4 linked regions of the Homo sapiens genome follow. The protein of the gene in region 1 purifies or fractionates together with the protein of each later gene. This does not show direct contact. Each region holds a gene or a part of one and is shown in the gene's direction. Other genes may lie near its edges.

The links.
Region 2: the proteins of RSU1 (region 1) and LIMS2 purify together in Homo sapiens (affinity purification with mass spectrometry; one large-scale study listed by BioGRID and IntAct). This does not show direct contact.
Region 3: the proteins of RSU1 (region 1) and TIAL1 fractionate together in Homo sapiens (co-fractionation; one large-scale study listed by BioGRID). This does not show direct contact.
Region 4: the proteins of RSU1 (region 1) and PFKP fractionate together in Homo sapiens (co-fractionation; one large-scale study listed by BioGRID). This does not show direct contact.

Annotation. Positions count from the first base shown.
Region 1 is NC_000010.11:16,687,746-16,692,998, reverse strand, and holds part of RSU1 (ras suppressor protein 1), read left to right. Parts: intron 1-5,229; exon of another isoform or gene 5,230-5,253. UniProt on the Homo sapiens protein: Potentially plays a role in the Ras signal transduction pathway. Capable of suppressing v-Ras transformation in vitro.
Region 2 is NC_000002.12:127,653,962-127,658,765, reverse strand, and holds part of LIMS2 (LIM and senescent cell antigen-like-containing domain protein 2), read left to right. Parts: intron 1-549; exon of another isoform or gene 550-736; coding exon of another isoform or gene 737-804; intron 805-1,203; coding exon 1,204-1,363; intron 1,364-3,869; coding exon 3,870-3,936; intron 3,937-4,221; coding exon 4,222-4,342; intron 4,343-4,804. UniProt on the Homo sapiens protein: Adapter protein in a cytoplasmic complex linking beta-integrins to the actin cytoskeleton, bridges the complex to cell surface receptor tyrosine kinases and growth factor receptors. Plays a role in modulating cell spreading and migration.
Region 3 is NC_000010.11:119,582,396-119,587,199, reverse strand, and holds part of TIAL1 (nucleolysin TIAR), read left to right. Parts: intron 1-4,591; coding exon of another isoform or gene 4,592-4,642; coding exon 4,643-4,741; intron 4,742-4,804. UniProt on the Homo sapiens protein: RNA-binding protein involved in alternative pre-RNA splicing and in cytoplasmic stress granules formation. Shows a preference for uridine-rich RNAs.
Region 4 is NC_000010.11:3,133,313-3,138,371, forward strand, and holds the end of PFKP (ATP-dependent 6-phosphofructokinase, platelet type), read left to right. Parts: coding exon 1-2; intron 3-791; exon of another isoform or gene 792-986; intron 987-1,170; coding exon 1,171-1,270; intron 1,271-2,423; coding exon 2,424-2,526; intron 2,527-3,137; coding exon 3,138-3,267; 3' UTR 3,268-3,490; downstream 3,491-5,059. Other genes in the region: PITRM1 (presequence protease, mitochondrial isoform 1 precursor), read right to left, coding at 4,719-4,812, 4,923-5,025. UniProt on the Homo sapiens protein: Catalyzes the phosphorylation of D-fructose 6-phosphate to fructose 1,6-bisphosphate by ATP, the first committing step of glycolysis.

The DNA of each region.
Region 1 (5,253 bases):
AGAGCAATATTCCATCCCAAAAAAAAGAAAAAAGAACAATGGCCTTAAAATGAAATACACTAAAATTGCCAAAATGATACCGTATCCTCCTATATAAAAGCAATGTAAAGCGTGGTTTAGATTACTTTAGACAATACTATGACACTTACAGTATAAGTCTAAAGACTTACCTTAAGGATAAAATGAGATAGGTATAGGATGTGTATTAATTGTTTCATAAGCCATATAGATATGTACAGTTATTACAGATTCAATTTTTTTTAAAAAAATACGAATGTAGCTCACCCTTAGAAATTAGTTAATTATGAAAATGTGTGAAAATATAGTCACAAATTAGCAGATGATTGTTTATCTTCTTCTTTGTAAATTGTTAATCATTGCTATCGTGAGTTTTAGATGGGGCTCTAATTTTTTCTTAGTAAACAGGAAGCTATTTAGAGCTTGGTTTGTATGGTATCTTGAAAAAAGTCATTCTGTATATGATAGTATACAGAAAAATGCATGAACAAACTCCTAGCCATCTGGAATTAGAGGAAATTCTCTGTTTATTATTCTGGTTAACAATTTTTAGTTTTCCATAGATCACTTTATAATTTATAGAGGATGAGAATACATTGCATATGAAAGTGCTTTTAATTTTAAAAGATTAAATTGTGAGTTTCTGGATTTTGTATTACCTCAAAGTAATTATTAGGCAATTAATCACCATTCTGCACTGTTACAGACTATTTTAACTGATTTGAATGTGGTTAGGATTCTGGATAAATGAGAGGTATCTATAACATAATTGGTATATCTGTTTTTATGTCTGTTATTAGCATCCTATTTTGGGGGGTTGGCGTAGTCTAAGCAATGTGTCTGCTAACTTTTTCTGTTTCATTTCCTCATGGAGCCTTGGATTACCTTTTATGCAGTTAAGTCAACATTAAAAAGTTTCAGTAGGCTGGGTGCGGTGGCTCACGCCTATGATCCCAGCACTTTGGGGTGAATTGTGGGGTGATTCACCATGAGGAGGGTGAATCACTTGAGGCCAGGAGTTCAAGACCAGCCTTTCCAACATGGTGAAACCCCATTTCTACTCAAAATACAAAAATTAGCCGAGTGTGGTGGTGGGTGCCTGTAATCCCAGCTACTTGGGAGGCTGAGGCAGGAGAATCGCTTGAACCTGAGAGGTGGAGGTTGCAGTGAGTTGAGATAGATGGCGCCACTGCACTCCAGCCTGGGTGACATAGTGAAACTGTGTTTCAAACAAAAAAAAAAAAAAAAAAAAAAAAAAGAAGCAGCAGCTTCAGTAAGCACCGGAGAGCCATTGCCTCCTTTCCACGGGGACCAGCTGGTTCCATAACAGCTGCTTTTAGGGGCATCTACATGATGCTCTGCTGGGAGGTCACAAGGTACATGAGCTATGCTAGGGCAGGGGCCTGCTGTGAGTTCTCTTCTGTCCTCCTTGGGAAGGAGAAGAAGGTTGGTTACTTTGTGTATTTCAGTTTTTTTGTCCTTCTGTCATTCTCCTGTAGCAGCTGTCGTCACCCCTTTGTCAAACATACTAGCCCAAAATATGGACTGTTAGCTGATAAGACAATAAGTCAAACTCTTAATCATTAAAAAAAAAAAAAAAACTGCACAAAAATGCCGCTATTGTGTTTCACCAGATTAACACAAACTGATTTTCAAAATTAAGGGCCTCCTTTATATGAATAGATCTGTATTATATTAAGTATATCCTCATACAATTAGAACCCAACTCAACTCTTTGTGTGAAGCAGCCATTTCATAATTAGGGGATTTTTAGTATCCTATCTGAAAAATATTATGCGAATTAGCAGGTATTTGGCTACTTTTTAAAAACGTTTTACATGTGGCAGCCTTCAGGGGAGGCAGTTTATTCATGATACTCATAGTTTTTTTAAAAAAGCAAATTTCACATTCATTGCCTTAGTTTTTGATCTTCTAGTCTAAAACTTATTATAGTTCCTAATTTTCACTTCTTTGTCTCTGTTGTTTAAGCCGCATACTTCCCCTTTATTAAAAAGAATCCTTACTTATATATTTATCAGTGTCTGTGTGTTGCGGATGTGTATTTGTCTATCTTTAAACTACCATGAAAACATACTTTTGGTTTTGGCACTTAAAACGCCTATGAACCTCCTCCTCCTTCCCCCACCCCAACCGCTTTTTTCTAACCAGTTAACCCATTACCTAAATGAGAGGAATAAAGAACTAAAAAACTTACCGGAATGTTTTCTTTTCATTCATGTCTATGATCGGCGTTCACAGTGACCTTCCTCAGAGCACGTCCTCAAGTTCTTCTGAGTCTAGGGCAGAGAGGATGGATGATCTGATTTATAGGCTCTAATGGACTCCAAGAGGAGACATGGATACTTGAAAGAAAACAATGAATTCAGTGTGTCAACAGAATTAAAATACTTGGAGATGACTTAGCTTCATGAAGATGGGAACTTGTTCCATTAAGCAGGAGGGGTGTGGCTGGTAGGATGGTGAGGTATAGTTCTTCAGAGATTGCTCTTTGGAGTAACATTCTGGGCATTAATCACGGCCCCTTCATCATGTCTCAGGTGGAAGCTGCTGTCTCTTCATCTTTCGTGCCTTCCACAGGGGAACTTGTTGGCTGATGTCACTGAGTTGCCGGTTAACATGAAATTATGAGCTTGGTTGGGTCGTTGAAGCTTACATCCTACATGCTCCACTGTGTTTTTAAACTGTCGCTGAGTTATACAATTACCTGTTAACTCTTTATTTGATGGTGGTTGTCTCTTCGACCTCTTTTATTTCTTTGAAGCAGAATTATGATGGAATACTCATCACTTAAGTTTCCAGAAGGTAGATTTTTTTCCCCCAGGAGAGGCAGTCAAGTTGAAGTCAGCACCCTTGACAAGATTCTTTGTGAAAGGGGGTAACTCACACTTTGCACATTTCCATCAAGGAACGTGGATACCAACTGCAAGCCATTTTAAAAGCTGACAAGTTAACTCTTGTCAACAAGTTAACAAAAGAGGTTTGACAAATGTTAGGCTGGAAATGCTTCCCTTGAAAGAGGTATTTGGCAAACAGGCGTCATCATGAAAACTGCAATTTGCCAAGCATGGCAGTCCTAAAGCCTCATTTCCAGCATGGCATCACTCACAGGATGCTTCCTCGTCATTCTGCCTGTCTTTTTCACCTTTCTTTTCTCTCTCCGGAAAAGTTCCCCACTCATTTGTGTTTTGTGTGTTCCGTTTTTTTAACCTTAAATGAAAGACCAGCCATACTATTATTCATATTAGTTAACAAAAACATTTTAACAAAGCAGTCTTTGGTGAATGGTGGGAAACCATGAGATAAAAGCTGAGAATTCCTCTTTATTAGAAATCTAGCCAAATAAATCATCCTGTTTGATTTATAAGGAAACATTCTTTTGGCTGTTGGTTATTGTTTTTCACATTGTTTTACTTGTGGAATTAAAGCTAATTAATGTTTTATTTTTCTTCTGCATGCTGTGCAAACCTGTTACAAGCTGTAATGGACGTACATGGGCTTTATTAAACAACTACTATATCCTCTAGTGACTGCTGAGTCAGTGGCCTAGAAATTCTTTAAATAACTTCACTGATACAACCAGTCCACCACAAGGCTAGGGCATTTCAAACCTAATAGGTGAGCCCATTCATTTTAAAACAGCCCTTCACTGTAGGAAATTATCTCTAAGAAAAACTTAATAAACATCTGATGAAGTATAAATGGGTGCACAGAGCTAGCAGGTGATTTTATAAATATCTTCACAAAGATGGAGGAGAGGGTTAAATTTCCAGGATCTTTCTAGTGGTTAGTAAATTGAACATAGTGACAATCAGTATGTAGAACAATGTAGACTCTTCTTTTTCATTGCTGTATCTGAAAATAGCTCAAATTAAGCCACAGAAAAACAATTTCTGTGTAGTAGACATGAAAATGAAGAACTGTTTTTCTTTAAAGCTTTTTTTTTTTTTCCTTAGGGACACAGTATCACTTTGTCACCCAGGCTGCAGTGCAGGGGCACCATGATAGCTCACTGCAGCCTTGATCTCCAGGGCTCAAGCAATCCCCCTGCCTCAGCTTCCCTAGTACCTGGGACTACAGGCACACACCACAACGCCTGGCTAGTTTTCTATTTTATTTTTTTGTGGAGACTGGGGGTCTTGCTATGTTGCCCAAGCTACTCTCAAACCCCTGGCCTCAAGAGATTTTCCTGCCTCAGCCTTTCAAAGCGCTGAGATTACAGGCACGCACCACGGCACCTGGCTTTTAACATAAAGGTAGTTTTTACATTTTACAAGTTGACTATGTATTCTCTTCCTGGTGATATATATTTTCTTCATAAATGGTACATATTTGTATTATTTTTTCTTTTTTTGAGACGGAGTCTCGCTCTGTCGCCGAAGCTGGACTGCAGTGGCGTGATCTGGGCTCACTGCAAGCTCCGCCTTCCGGGTTCACGCCATTCTCCTGCCTCAGCCTCCCGAGTGGCTGGGACTGCAGGCGCTCGCTACCACATCTGGCTGATTTTTTGTATTTTTTTTAGTAGAGACAGGGTTTCGCCTTGTTGGCCAGGATGGTCTTGATCTCCTGACCTCGTGACCCGTCCGCCTCGGCCTCCCAAAGTGCTGGGATTACAGGCCTGAGCCACCACTACTGGCCTATATTTTCTTTTTTAAAGTTGAAAATGCATTATCACATTTTATCCATAATATGTGATTCAAAGTTTTGGCATCTGTGGACCTATTTGCAAGAAAATATGTTGCATTTAACCAGTATTGCTAAAAAGTATCAGAGAAAAGGGAAACCCATATAATATATTTGGGGTATATTGTGTCACATCTCTTATTTCATGTTAACTTCAATGATAAAATTAGGTAGCATCACATTTTAAAACACAAAAAACTCCAGAATGTTTATTCTACTGAATAAAAGTAAGCCAATATGTAATACTAACTTTTGAAGGCTGGGTGCAGTGGCTCATGCCTGTAATTCCAGTACTTTGGGAAGGCGAGGCAGGAGGATCACTTGAGCCCAGGGAGTTCAAGACCAGCCTGGGCAACATAGTGAGACTTCGTCTGTACAGAAAATGAAAAAAAATTAGCCGGGCATGGTGGCACATGCCTGTAGTCTCAGCTACTTGGGTGGCTGAGGTGGGAGGATGCCTTGAGCCCAGAAGGTCAAGGTTGCAATGAGCCAAGATCACACCACTGAACTCCAGCTTCAGTGATAGAGTGAGAC
Region 2 (4,804 bases), on another chromosome or scaffold:
CCCAGTCTTCCAGGAATCCACTGGAGTTGACACTTGAGACAGAACCCACGTTCTCCCTTCCTAGCAAAAGGTGTGGGGTATCCGGTTCTTTGAAGGTCGTAGAGGCAGTTGGGGTGTTTAGGACTACATCCTGACCCTGTTTTTGAGTCTAAAAGGCCCCTCCTGGCTGTGCCGAAGGGCCCTGGGGCTGGACTGATTGCGGGCCTGGCTCACTGTGGGCTTTTCCCCTGTAGTTCGCATTTCACCCCTCCCAGAAGGAAACCCACCACTGACTCTGGGGACAGGCAGTGCCCAGTATGGATGAGATTTGCTCCCCCTCACCACACTCCCGTCTCGTCTCAAAGATTCATACTCTTGTCTTTTTTATTTATTTTTTATTTTGAGACAGGGTCTTGCTCTGTTGCCCAGGCCTGAGTGCAGTGGCACTCAGCCTCGGCCTCCCAGGCTCAAGCCATCCTCCCACTTCAGCCTCCAGAGTAGCTGAGACTACAGGCTTGCACCACCACACCTGGCTAATTTTTTTGTTTTCTTGTATTTTTATTAGAGATGGATTCTTGCCATATTGCCCAGGCTGGTCTCGAACTCCTGGGCTCAAGGGATCCGCCCACCTTGGCCTCCCACAGTGCTCTGGATGACAGGCTTGAGCCATTCTGCACACGCACCCAGCTACCCTCTTGCCTGCTCTGTGTTTGGGTGGTTATGTGTTTATTGGAGGCAGTCAGTTTGAAACTAACTCATGGTGCAGAGGATGGAACCATGGAAGACTGAGCAGTCTGGATTCAAGTGTGGACCCCGCTCTGCTGTGTGAGCTTGGGCAAGTTACTCAACCTCTTTGAGGCTTAGGTCCCTTTTCTGGAAGAGGCCATAATAATAGTAGCTGCAGTATTGCCCTGGGGATTAAATGAGAGTGTGAATACAGAGCCGCTCACCTGTGCTGGGTGGTGTTCTGTGTGCGAGACTCTCTGGTCCCTGAAGAAGGGGTAATAGGGGCCCAAGTGGGAGTTGACTGGGCCCCTGACACCCCAAGGGGTGGGCACTACAAGCACTGAGCAGCCTGGACCCTGGGTTAGAGCGATTTTCCTGATCCTGCAGAGCGTCTTCACTTTTTAATACGAGGTGTGTCTGTCGGGCGCAGGCCCCCGCGTGTGCCCCATCTGCACCCCTGACCAGCTCTGACTCACTCCTCCTGTCTCCTGCCCCCAGCAATATGTCGGACGCCTTGGCCAACGCCGTGTGCCAGCGCTGCCAGGCCCGCTTCTCCCCCGCCGAGCGCATTGTCAACAGCAATGGGGAGCTGTACCATGAGCACTGCTTCGTGTGTGCCCAGTGCTTCCGGCCCTTCCCCGAGGGGCTCTTCTATGAGGTGAGGACACTACTGAGGGCTTTCTCAGACCCAGCTCGGAGTCTGCCCTCTATGAGCGGGTGGGCCGGGCTCCATGCAGTGGTCCCGACTGGTGACAGGGCCAGGTCTGGAGCCAGCCCAGAACCAGGCTTGAGCTCCTGCACGGGCCCATCCTTCACCTGTGAGATGTGAACAGCACCCCAGGTGCCCTGGGTGCTAACAGAGAGCCACCTTTCACCAGCCTCCTCTGGGCAGATGCTGGGCAGGCCCTGGGGGCAGGAAGAGCCTGCCCTGGTGGTGCTTGCCCTCCCTGGGGACTAGACAGTGAGCACAGCAACCGCATGGCCCACCAGCTGGTGCTGATGCCCTGGGGGTCAGGGTTCCCGGGGTGGGGTGCGGTGGTGCTCAGGGAAGGTGAGGTTTGGGCACACCTGAGGGGAGGGAGACATACTGGGCAGAGGGCACCGCATATGCACATACCCTGTGGTGGGAGAACATGGGGTGTATGGAGAGCAGTAGGAAGACTGGTGTGATGGAAGCCGAGGGCATGAGAGGGAGAAGGCCAGGAGCTGAGGAAAGGGAGGTGGATCTCGCTTGGCCCCACGGGCCTCTACGGAGCCATAGGCTTCCCCTCTGCAAGAGGCAGGAGCCACCTCGGGGTGTGGAGCAGAGGAGTCACACTATCTGCTGACATTTGAAAAGGTGACCTGGCCGGGCGCGGCGGCTCACGCCTGTAATCCCAGCACTTTGGGAGGCGGAGGCAGATGGATCACCTGAGGTCAGGAGTTCAAGACCAGCCTGGCCAACATGGTGAAACCCTGTCTGTACTAAAAATACAAAAAATGAGCCTGGCATGGTGGCAGGTGCCTGTAATCCCAGCTACTCGGGAGGCTGAGGCAGGAGAATCACTTGAACCTGGGAGGCAGAGGTTGCAGTGAGCCGAGATCGCGCCATTGCACTCCAGCCTGTGGGACAGAGCAAGACTCCATCTAAAAAAAAAAAAAAAAAGAAAGAAAAAAAAAAGGAGGCTTGTGGCCGCTGTGCTGAGGAGAGGATGTAAGGCGGGGCAGGAACAGAGGCTGGGCCAGGAGGCTGGGGGGACCAGGAGCTGAATTAGTGCAATCACCCAGATGAAAGTGAAGGGGCCCCCACCAGCTCACAGGAGCAGTCGTTAAATCATCAACAATCTTGGGAGCTGGTTGGGCAACAGAGTTATTGTTTAAAAATTAAATTATATCAGCGTACAATGGGATACAATTTTATTAAAAACAAAGGTAACAAATACTCAAAGCATACCACTTGCTAATTATTTTGTTCCACTTTACTATCGTCTATGCTGATGGGGTTATTTCTGTCCATTGTGCTGGTGTGGCCACTGCACATCTCCCCTCAAGTCCACATCGATGTCATGTTGGCAGCCAGGAGTTGGCCATGACGGGAATATTCACACCATGGACACTGGCAAACGCCCCACAGCAGGGCCTGCCTCTGCGCCCCAGAGAGCTGGCTGTTGAGCATTTACCAGAACATCACTTGTGCTTGTGGTGGCGGTGGTGGCCAGGGGTCAGATGCTGGCTCTGTTTCAAGGTAGAGCTGATGGGACTGGCTGGTGGATGGATGTGGGGCCTGTGGTCCGCCTGGCAGAGCAAGAGCCGCTGTTCCTCACAGTGTCTTCAGCCTCCTGAGGAATGCTGTCTAAGTGTAGAGGCAGCGGGAGGGGTGGGCAAAGCTCTAGGAGGGGTGGCCATATGCCCAGAACAAAGCCTCTCTCTCTCACACACAGCAGGTGCCCAGAAGATTTTCATTGCTGAAAGAGTTTAAGCCCTTCCTGACTCTACAGGTCACTGGGTAGGGCTATATCCAGTTTAGTCTAATAAGACACTCATTTTAGAGAACAGGGAAAAACCAATTAAAAAACAGAAAATACAATTGTTAGAGGAAAGCAGAGGCAGGCTTTGGCCCCGCTTGTGGCCAGCACAGGGGCCCTCGCTGGCAGCTGCCGCCTGGAGGGTGTGCACACTGGCTCCTGCTGGCCGCAGCCCTGAGCTCTTCCCACTTCCCCGTGCCCAGGCCCTTCCTGCGTTCCCTTCCTTCTGTCTCCTATACCCGGGTCTTCATGGCCTCTGAGAGAGCTGGATACTCCCACAGAGAAGGTATACGAAATAGGACCAAGTGACACTACACTTCAGACTGGATCTCATCCCTCCTGGCTTAAAACCGCCTCGCCCCCAGCCTGTTCTCCGGACCAACAGGGTCCAGATCCTCAGTAGACACCAGTGGCCCTTTGACAGGTGGCCTCACGGACCTCTCCAGCTTCCACGGGGGCACCTCCCTTTGCACCCCACCATCCCAAAAGGGCCAGTGTCCTCTCTGGCCAGGCCTGGGACCCACTGCTCCAGCCTCAGCCCGGCATGCCCCTGCCTCAGTGCCTCATCCCCTGCTGTCAGGTCCTGACCCAACAAGGGCCTGGGCTGCTCATGGGGATGATAGGTGGTTTGCTTGTCCTCTCTCTGCGACCCCTTTGCAGTTTGAAGGCCGGAAGTACTGCGAACACGACTTCCAAATGCTGTTTGCTCCGTGCTGTGGATCCTGCGGTAAGGCCGGTGACAGTACACATCCTGGGCTGCCTGGGAAGTGGGCAGCAGTGGCGGGGGGCAGGGGGCCGAGGGGGTACACAGAACTGGCCCAGCTCTTTCCTAACTCCCCACCTTGCCTCTCTGAGCGGCAGCCGTCAGGCCCCCTACAGGCATCACCATCCCACGAGGGAGCCCATGGGCCAGGCAGAGAGCAGGCGGAGTGCTAGGTGGACAGGGCTTGGGAGGGTCCGAAGAGGGGACAGGCACGTGCTCCCCAGCCAGCAGGGACCTGTCTTCTTCCAGGTGAGTTCATCATTGGCCGCGTCATCAAGGCCATGAACAACAACTGGCACCCGGGCTGCTTCCGCTGCGAGCTGTGTGATGTGGAGCTGGCTGACCTGGGCTTTGTGAAGAATGCCGGCAGGTGAGGTGGCCGTGTTGGGCCAGAGAGGACTGGGCCACAGCCCTTCCTGGCACACCTGCCACCTCTCCTGTGTGCTACCCACTTGCTGAGGGCGCAGAAGGGTCCCGGTGCTGCAGCCTGCACTGATGTAGCTGCCCTCCCTCCAGGTCACCCCGGGGCGGATAGTCCAGCTCCCAGTTTACAGGGCCCCACGCTCAGCGAGCTCCTGGCAGCCTCTCGGGAGCCATGAGAAATCCTCACACTCTGCCACCCCCCTGGCCACCCCATCTACTGACCCCACCTGTCCACCTTCTCCTGCCTGTACCTGTGCAGCTCAGTGTGGCTGGAGGGAGATGCCCACATTTACTCTAAATTGAGGGCCACAAACCTCATGGGTACTCCAGAAGTTCCCACCTTCTGCGAACCCTTGGTCTCTCATCCTCCCTTCCCAAGCACTGTCCCTATAGCAGGTGGCCTTGTCTC
Region 3 (4,804 bases), about 100 Mb from region 1:
TATGGAAAGGGCTAGAAACTGTGCTAAAGAGTTTGTTTTATCCTGAAACGGAGAACTGTTAAAAACCTTTAAAGTGCATTGGCCTTTTGATTGTCTTTCCCAAGTAATGACAATCATCATTTTGTTCTGGTGTATTATATTTTTCCTTCCTGCCTTTAATTATTTATTTGTGCTTTCATCGATCAAAAATTTCCTTTGCACTAGGCACTATACAAGGTACTGGAGATATAATGGAGAGACAGCCAAATGAGTTTCCCAAGCAAATAGGGATGTAAGCCATGAAGAGAATAAAACAGAGTTCTGTGATGATTGGAGGGTTGGTGCTATATAGGCTAGGTGATGAGAGATGTCACCTCTTTGAGCTGAGATGAATAACAAGATGGTGCTATCTATGGTAAGAGCTGGAGGCAGAGGAAACAGCAAATACAAGTCTTGAGTTGGTAATGAACTTGTGTTTGTGGAATCAAAGACCGATGGCTAGAGTCTGGTGAGGGATGGAGGGGAGTTAAGGGAAATGAGTCTAACAGCAGGATTCAGAATCACAGGACATTATGGTCCATGACATAGTTTAGGTTTTACTCTGATTGCTGTGGCAGACCAGTGGAGGGGCTTAAGCAGGGGGATGAGGTGCCAAGATTTGCATATTTAAGCTTACTACTCTATGTAGAGAATGACTGTTTTATGGAGAATAGATTGTAGCGGGCAAGAGCAGAAGGAGAAAAACCATCTGGATTTACTTCACTAGTCTAGGTAAGAGATGATGGAGGCTTATTCTCGAAAGTGCTAGCCGAAGTCAAGATAAGGACAGAGGTTGATAGATTTGGAATATATTTTGGAGGTAGAATTGATAGGACTGGGTTGGCTGTGGGACATAGGGAAAGGAAGAAATCAGGAAATACCCTAAGATTCATGTTAATGCAGTTGTATAGTTGGTAATGCTATTTATTTGCTAAAGTGGGGGTGACCTGATGGATGTCACCATGGGGAGTGGTGGGAATCAGAAATTGTGTTTTGGATGTTAGATTTAAGACATGAATTAGACATCAAAGTGGACGTTAGATTAGGCAGTTGGATAAAGTAGTTTGCAACTCTAGAGAGACCGGTGCTGAAGCTTGCAGTGGTATTTGAATCCATGAAGCCATGGGACTAGATGAGTTCACAGAGAGAGAATGATGGTAAAGAAGAGCACAGAGGCCGTGAGGTCTGAGCCCTGGACAAGCTCAACATTTAGAGTTTGAGTAAGGGAAGAAAGATCCTACAGTGAGGAAACAGGAAAACCAGAGTGTGGTAGGAGACAGAAGAGAATGTTTAAAGGAGGATGGTGGTCAACTGTAGTGAATTCTGCTTGGAAGTAAAGATTAGGATGGAAAAGGAATCACAGAAGCAGCAGAGAGGTCATTGTTGAGCTCAACATGCAGTTTCAGTGGCATGGTTAGCTTGGAAGCTGACAGAAGTAGGTTTAGGAGAGAACGGGTTGTGAGAAAGTGGGGAAAGACTCACTAGAAAATTTTTGAGAAACATTTGTAAAGATTTATTTTAACTATTTTTTAAAACCCCATGTATACATACAGCTATTTGAAGGGTAGAGGGACTCGAAATGAATTTTCATAACATCCATATTCTAGAACTCCTAGATTTGAGCTTGTAAAGTCTCATATTTCTCTGTCTTGACATTTATGTCATCCAACAAAAATTGGTGACAACGCTAAATAAGGTAGGGACATAACGGATTTTTTTTTTTTTTTTTTAAGAGACAGGGTCTGACTCTGTCCTCCAGGCTGGAGTGCAGTGGCGCCATCATGGCTCACTGCAGCCTCCACCTCCTGGGTTCAAGTGATCCTCCCACCTCAGTCTCCCAAGTAGCTGGGACAGCACCGCCACACCTAGTTCATTTTTAAATGTGTTTGTAGAGATTGGTTTCACCATGTTACCAATGGTCCCGAACTTCTGGCTGGTCCTAAACTCCTAGGCTCAAGTGATCCTCCTGCCTCTGCCTCATCCTCCTAAAGTGCTGAGATTATAGGCATGAGACACTGCACCCAGCCATAATTGATTTTTTTTTTTTTTTTTTTTTTTTGAGATGGAATCTTGCTCTTTTGCCCAGGCTGGAGTGCAATGGCATGATCTCGGCTCACTGCAGCCTTGGCCTCCTGGGTTCAAGTGATTCTCCTGCCTCAGCCTCCCAAGTAGCTGGGACTACAGGTGCGTGCCATCATGCCCAGCTAATATTTTTTATTTTTTTATTTTTTGTATTTTTAATAGAGACAAGGTTTCACCATATTAGCCAGGATGGTCTTGATCTTCTGACCTCGTGAACCGCCCACCTCGCCCTCCCAAAGTGCTTGGGTTACAGGCGTGAGCACTTTTTTTTGAGACAGAGTCTGGCTCTGTTGCCCGGGCTGGAGTGCAGTGGCACGATCTTGGCTCACTGCAACCTCTGCCTCCCAGGTTCAAACGATTCTCCTGCCTCAGCCTCCTGAGTAGCTGGGATTACAGGCGCCCGCCACCACACCCAGCTAATTTTTTGTATTTTTGGTAGAGATGGGGGTCTCACCATGTTGGTCAGGCTGGTCTCGAACTCCTGACCTCAAGTGATCCAGCTGCCTCAGCCTTCCAAAGTGCTGGGATTACAGGTGTGAGCCACTGCACCCAGCCCATAATTGATTTTTAGGATGTCACTTGGTGGTGTAAATAAGAAGCTTCCAGAGGGTATAAACTCTAGCAGAGTATCTAGCAGCTATTTATTTTTCTTTCATAAATTTCATTTCAGTATGTGAAAAATCCTTTTTCCCCCATAGTTTTATGATTTTTTTTTTACTTTAGATGTTGTTATCATAGATTCTAGCTTTCCTTATATAATACAAATATATATTATTGATTCTAAGTCAAATTTTTTTAGAATTTTAATATCTGACAGTTGGGATGTGACTTAGAAATAAGTGGTGTCTTAAATTAGATGATATGCAGTGTGATGTGAATATATAAAATATGTGATGTCAGTGAATATATGTGTATATATACATGCACGTGCATACATTGATTGGGAGCTGGCCTACTATTAGATAGATTTGAAATTGGTATTCACGAGTAGACTAGTTTCCTAAAGTGTATGGGATTATCATAGATCTGCTGTTGGACCCCTGTATGTTTTGCTGTGATTATCAGTGTTTTCCTTAGAGACCATTGGGGCAAAAGAGATAGGAGTGAAAGGAAAACTCAACTAGCACAATTTTAGCCTCTTATTTATTTTGATGTCCTTTCTTCAATGAATATTTATGGTAAATGTAATAACTCTTTTACAAGAATTTAAATGTGTGTTTTCATTTGAAGTCTTCCCCCATTTCCTTTCTTTACCTCTTAAGAACAGCATTCACGTGGCTACAACAGTAGGATTTTGTATGAGAGCCCATAGTTTTGTTGTCAGTATTAACGATCCCACTTTTTTTCCCTCAAGGAAATGCCTTCTGGTTCCTTTGCCACTATTGTTTAGACGTCTTATTTTGGATTTTTCTTCTAAAACTTTCCTGGAATGAAAAACTGTTGTGGTTGAAAAGATCTTTATTTTATCTGGTATATTTATCCCTTGTAAGTCCAACTAGAATTCCACATTTTAAATATTATTCTTATAGGGCATTTTACATTGAATAATGATGAATGTTTTTAGCCTTACATAAAAATATGTATTTGTACAGTTGTGCAGCTATTCAGTACAGGTTGCAGTTTCATAGAAATTCATTTCTAGTTTGGTTGTCAGGTGAGAATGTTGCTATAGCTTAGGTAGTACTACTTTCTTCACATCTTTATAAATGTGTTTTAGGTAACTACTGTCAAGCACAGGGTTGCAGAATATATTTAATATAGATTTTTTATATGGTGTTCTTATGATGTAAACTTATAGCTTTGTCTTGGAATATTTTATTCAGATACATTTTCAGAACCTCTTTTCTTGATCACCACTGTTATTTCTCTGATCTTTGGAAGACCAAATTCAAAGTATATAGAATCTTCAGTACATTAGACTATTTTGGAAGGTAGGGAATTCATTTCAGTAGCTGGTTATAAAGCTTAAGTTTTCTTGTTTTTATTTTCATTCTTTCCATATCCAGAAAAGAAATCAATAAAATTCAGTCTTTGTAGCAGCATAGAATTCCATCATTTGTAGTATTGATCCTAATTTTGATCAGTAGTTTATGAAGTTGGTTCTTGCTGTATTTCTGTATCCTGGGATACCACTTATAGAGGATTATGATGCATAAGTAGAACGTAATTTAAAAATAATATTGGAGAAGGAAAGTAGTGGTAAGGAGTGGTCCTCATCAGATCTGAGTTTGAGGTTTTGTTTGGTTTAATATAATCTTCTATTTTATATTTAACACACTTCACCAGAATTCTTTATTTTCATTTAATACTGATGCTCATGATTCTACAACTGCTTTTATAGTTCCGTTTGAGTTCAGCAGTATTCTGAGGTGCAAAGTCAGGTTTAGCTTTAAATCTTATTTAAAAAGTGTTAGGCTTTCATAAGCTTATGCAGTCTCACCTTGTATATTCCCAGCTATCAGTAATGTTTTTTCCTGGATTTTCTTCTCAGCAACCCGATAGCAGAAGGGTCAACTCTTCTGTTGGATTTTCTGTTTTGCAGCATACAAGCAATGACCCATATTGCTTTGTGGAATTTTATGAACACAGAGATGCAGCTGCTGCATTAGCTGCTATGAATGGGAGAAAAATTTTGGGAAAGGTAAGATAATAGGATGATGGCACCTTATGAGTACATATATTTGCATGTCAAACTAGTTTGTAT
Region 4 (5,059 bases), about 14 Mb from region 1:
AGGTAGGCCCGAGACTGCATGAGGGGCCACAAAGCCCCTGTCATGTGACTTTTAAAAGATTAGTGTCTTATTTTAGCCATTGTGGGGAAAAATGTATAAGTAAATTCCAAGATGATAAAAAACATCTGAACTTTTTGAGACAGAGTCTTGCTCTGTTGCCCAGGCTGGAGTGCAGTGGTACAAGCTTGGCTCACTGCAACCTCCACCTTCCAGGTTCAAGTGATTCTCCTGCATCAGCCTCCCGAGGAGATGGCAGTATAGGCACCCACCACCACACCCAGCTAATTTTTGTATTTTTAGTAGAGATGGGGTTTCACCACGTTGGCCAGGCTGGTCTCAAACTCCTGACCTCAGATGATTCACCCACCTCAGCCTCCCAAAGTGGTGGGAATACAGGCCTGAGCCACTGTGCCCAGCCAAAACATCTGAACTTTTAAGTGATGCCAAACATCACCAGCTTTAGGATTCTTTTGTTGGTGAGGTTTGAGTAATGGGGATTTTAAGGGAACTGTCAGCTTTCATGAAAACAGTGATACCCCCATTACTTGGAAATGCTTATTCAAATTAAACACTTCATCAAGTTAAAAACTGGAGCTTCCCTAAGATTTAAAATGGATTATCAGACATGTAGTATACTTGACACCCCAAGTCAGAATGACCTGGAATGAGCTGCACACAGGCACACACGTGTTATGAGCTGAGCCTGGGACACAGGGTCCAGGCCTCCTAACTTGCACACACTCCTTCCTCACCACCTCCTATTCTTATACTTTTAAGCCAGAGCCCATGAATCCCCTGCAATGATGATGAAATAGTAGGCATATGTGTGATCTTCTTAAAGAATCCACAACGGTTATCAGATTAAAGCTGTGACCCATCCCCAGCTCAGATGAGTTCATGAAATCCTGATTTAAGATTTTAAAATAATGAAGATTGTTAGTTGACTTGTTCGGTTTATTAAAATCCTCATCTTACTGAGCGGGGGGAACACTTGATACTTTTTCTTAACAGGCCAAGTTCAGGCTACGGGAATCACAGGTTTTGTTCTGTTCCAACTATAAGGACCTAGAAATAAAAACATGAATTCTGCAAAATAGAAATTGTCATTTCTATTTAACAGCAAAGTGTTACTGTATAACTGGTATTTCATATAACTCTAACCACCAACAGGGTGGGGCACCCTCTCCATTTGATAGAAACTTTGGAACCAAAATCTCTGCCAGAGCTATGGAGTGGATCACTGCAAAACTCAAGGAGGCCCGGGGCAGAGGTAAGGGGTCTGGGGAGGGAGGCCACAGCCTCGTGATGCAGGCCGTCCTGCCTTGGTGAAAATGCTGTCCTATCGGGGAGAAGTAGGGTGCTGGTTCCTTCTTCAGTTCAGTACTGAGCTGCACGTGATGTTTTACTCCTGATCTCTGAGTGTTGCTATTTAACCAACCTTGGATTCCTGGGATAAGATCAGCTTGGGTATGACATGTTCTCTTTTATCACTGCTAGATGCAGTCTGCAGTTCTTTTGTGCAGGCTTTTTGCTCTAGAGATCCTGAACGTTGGCCAGCAATTTCCCCTCACAGTTTAAGTGGGGCCTTCTATTTTTTGAATGTTTGCTAGGACAACCTCCTTGTGACTATCCATCAAAACTTCCAGTTTTGAGGAAGATCTGACTGCTGAATGAATTGTTCATGTTTGTAGAACTGCATGTTCGTAGAACTGTGCATGTTCTTCCTTAAATCAGTTCTGTAAGTTACATATTCTAAGAAATCTTTAAACTGAAGTTTCAAGAAACATGACTTTTTTATAATACTCTTGTTAATGGCTCCAACATGGCTGTTCCCCACTCATTCCTGAGTGGCTCTTTGTGCCAGCATCTTTCTCACCCCCACCCCCCTCAGCTTTCTTAATCAGTCATAGCAGATGTGTGCTTTTATTCCGGCAAACCACTATCACTGCCAGTGTCCAACTTAGAAAAATGACAGTCTATAAAAACCAGTGATGTGAATAGTTTCAATGGGTTTGTCTTTTTGAAGAACTGACTTTGGCTTTGATTCTTTCTACAGCGATTTTCTTTTGCTAATTTAGCTATGGATGCTTTTTGCCTCTCAGTGTGTGTATGTGTGAGCATAAATTAGTGTCCTGTAATTTAAGCTAATTTCCCTATTCCACTATTTAGTGAAAAATTCTCTCCACTGGGAGGAAAAAACAAAAGCTGCTTTCCAGGAAGCCCTCGGGGCAGTCCCACAGGAGCAGAGCTGCACGAGGCCAGGTGCTGGCCCCACTGCGCGGCTGTTCTCAGTCTCACTGGGCTTCCAGGCCGGGTTCAGCATGGTTCTGAGGAATCTCAGTTCTCATCTCGCCCCGTGATTCTGCTCCCCCACCTGCCCATGTTGACAGGGTGTTATTAATCTTTTTTAAAATCTTTTATAGGAAAAAAATTTACCACCGATGATTCCATTTGTGTGCTGGGAATAAGCAAAAGAAACGTTATTTTTCAACCTGTGGCAGAGCTGAAGAAGCAAACGGATTTTGAGTAAGTTGGCTGGGTTCCCTGAGGCAATAAGACCCCAATGTGAGTACGGGACAGGGGAATGGCCATTGCTGTTGCTGTCGGCAACTCATTCAGGGGTTTGAGGAACTGGCTTTTCTGAAGCTCAGTTAAAAAAATACTAGGTCTTGGCTGGGCGCGGTGGCTCATGCCTATAATCCCAGCACTGTGGGAGGCCGAGACAGGTGGATCACAAGGTCAAGAGATCGAGACCAACCTGGCTCATATGGTGAAACCCCATCTCTACTAAAAATACAAAAATGAGCCAGGCATGGTGATGCACACCTGTAGTCCCAGCTACTCAGGAGGCTGAGGCAGGAGAAATCGCTTGAACCCGGGAGGCAGAGGTTGCAGTGAGCTGAGATTGCACCACTGTACTCAAGCCTGGCGACAGAGCGAGACTCCACCACTGGGTCTTCGGGAATAATTTTAAACAATGGTTTCATTTGATCCTGAAATTGGCTTTATCATCTAGTTGATTCAGCCGACCCTACAAACCCTGTGTTTCTGGCAAGACCGCTCGCTGTGCTGGCCAGGCGGAGGCATCTCCCGCCAGTGACTGCAGGCCTCACTGCTGTCTCCTCTTACCTCCACAGGCACAGGATTCCCAAAGAACAGTGGTGGCTCAAGCTACGGCCCCTCATGAAAATCCTGGCCAAGTACAAGGCCAGCTATGACGTGTCGGACTCAGGCCAGCTGGAACATGTGCAGCCCTGGAGTGTCTGACCCAGTCCCGCCTGCATGTGCCTGCAGCCACCGTGGACTGTCTGTTTTTGTAACACTTAAGTTATTTTATCAGCACTTTATGCACGTATTATTGACATTAATACCTAATCGGCGAGTGCCCATCTGCCCCACCTGCTCCAGTGCGTGCTGTCTGTGGAGTGTGTCTCATGCTTTCAGATGTGCATATGAGCAGAATTAATTAAACATTTGCCTATGACTCCAACAGTCCTCTGTTTTAGTTTTTTAAGTAGGAGATTAGTACCTCAATCTATGGGTGGCTACTAAAGGTTTTCTCAGTTTTGTGGGCAAAGATTAGCAAAATATTTTTATAGGGATCACTGAACTATGCACACGTCATACAAGGAGAACAAAGCCAGGAGTTCACACAGGCCAAGGGGAAGGCCACGTTTACTCACCATTCCATATCTGCCATGTGTCAGTTTCCATCCACAGCAGCAGGCCGGGACCCTGGGCCTCGACCCCAGGCTCCTGCTCTCCTTTGAAAGTAAAACATGAATCTTAGTTACTTGTCCTCTTGATTGCAATCCTAGCTGCATGTTAAAACCACCAAGGGGTGGGTGGGGCGGAGGTGGGTTCAAAAATCTGATAGCCAGCTTCTCCTCCAGGCCAAGCCACAGTCCTCGCTGGGACCTAGGTTGGAACTCTCCGGAAGACTCCTGCCAGAGTAGACACGGCTGCTGGGATGACAGCCCTGCTGCCCTGGTGGGCCCCCCTCCTGTAGGGACAGCGTTTCTGCCTCTTAGCTCTAGTCTGCAAGAGAGAACAGCTGCGCCTCAGAAATGGGGGCAGAGAGCTGGGTGGAGGGAGAGGAGAGGCCAAAAACAAACTCTGTTTGGGAAATCAGAGTCCGACAGCCAAGAAAGAGCTAGCGCGGAGGCTTTCCTTTCTGGCTCTGTAACGATGAAGCAAGCGCTTACTCACCCCAACCCACTTGCTTCTCAGGACGGTTTCCATGCAGCCGCCGCGGTGAACTCCCGTCTGGTGGACACTCCCCCAGGGCCTCGGTGTGATGGAGTTTCCTGAATCAGCGCAGGCAGACGTGGGACACCCTTGTGCACCTTTTCATTTTACTTCTGTTTTTAAATAAAGGCCCTAAATGCTGCTTAAAATAATGACTCAAGCAGAGGTTAAGTCAGAGTTGCCCTTTATTTTTAGATTCTTAAATATTCTAGAATGAGGTAAAACGAGCCTGCCAGTACAAAGTGAAAATTCTACATGGTGCATCTTTGGCGCTTCATGCATGATTATTTCAATGAACCTCTTCCTGGTCACTCTTAAGATAGATCTGAGTTTTTGACTCGCCAGTCAAGGGCTTTGGCGACACTCAATGACATAATATTCTTGGAAAAAGCAGTAGCATTTCTGACTTTTCATATTCAGCTCGGAGGTGTATTGTCTCGGGCTCCTGTGCAGTCGAGCGCCACGGCTGCTCATTGGATGATCCAGGATGGGTCCTTGGCAATTTTCGGGTTCTCGGGTCCGAGGATGGCCAGGCCGTGTGTGCTCTTCCCAGTGCCGAGGTATCTGAGAGGAAGGCAGGCGTGGTCAGCAAGGACTGGCTTCTGCGTGAGCGCTGTTAGAGTCAGCACGAGGGCTTCCAGTCCCAGACGCTGTCTCCCCCGCTCCCCACTCACCTATCGCTCACGGCCAGGAGCTTGTCGTGGCTGACAGCAAAGAGCTGCTCTCTGTGGGCCTGCTTCATCTCATCCGAGAGGCCGTACAAGAAGTGGTCCATTCCTAGAAGACAATCCACAGGCACGATGGAGCCGCT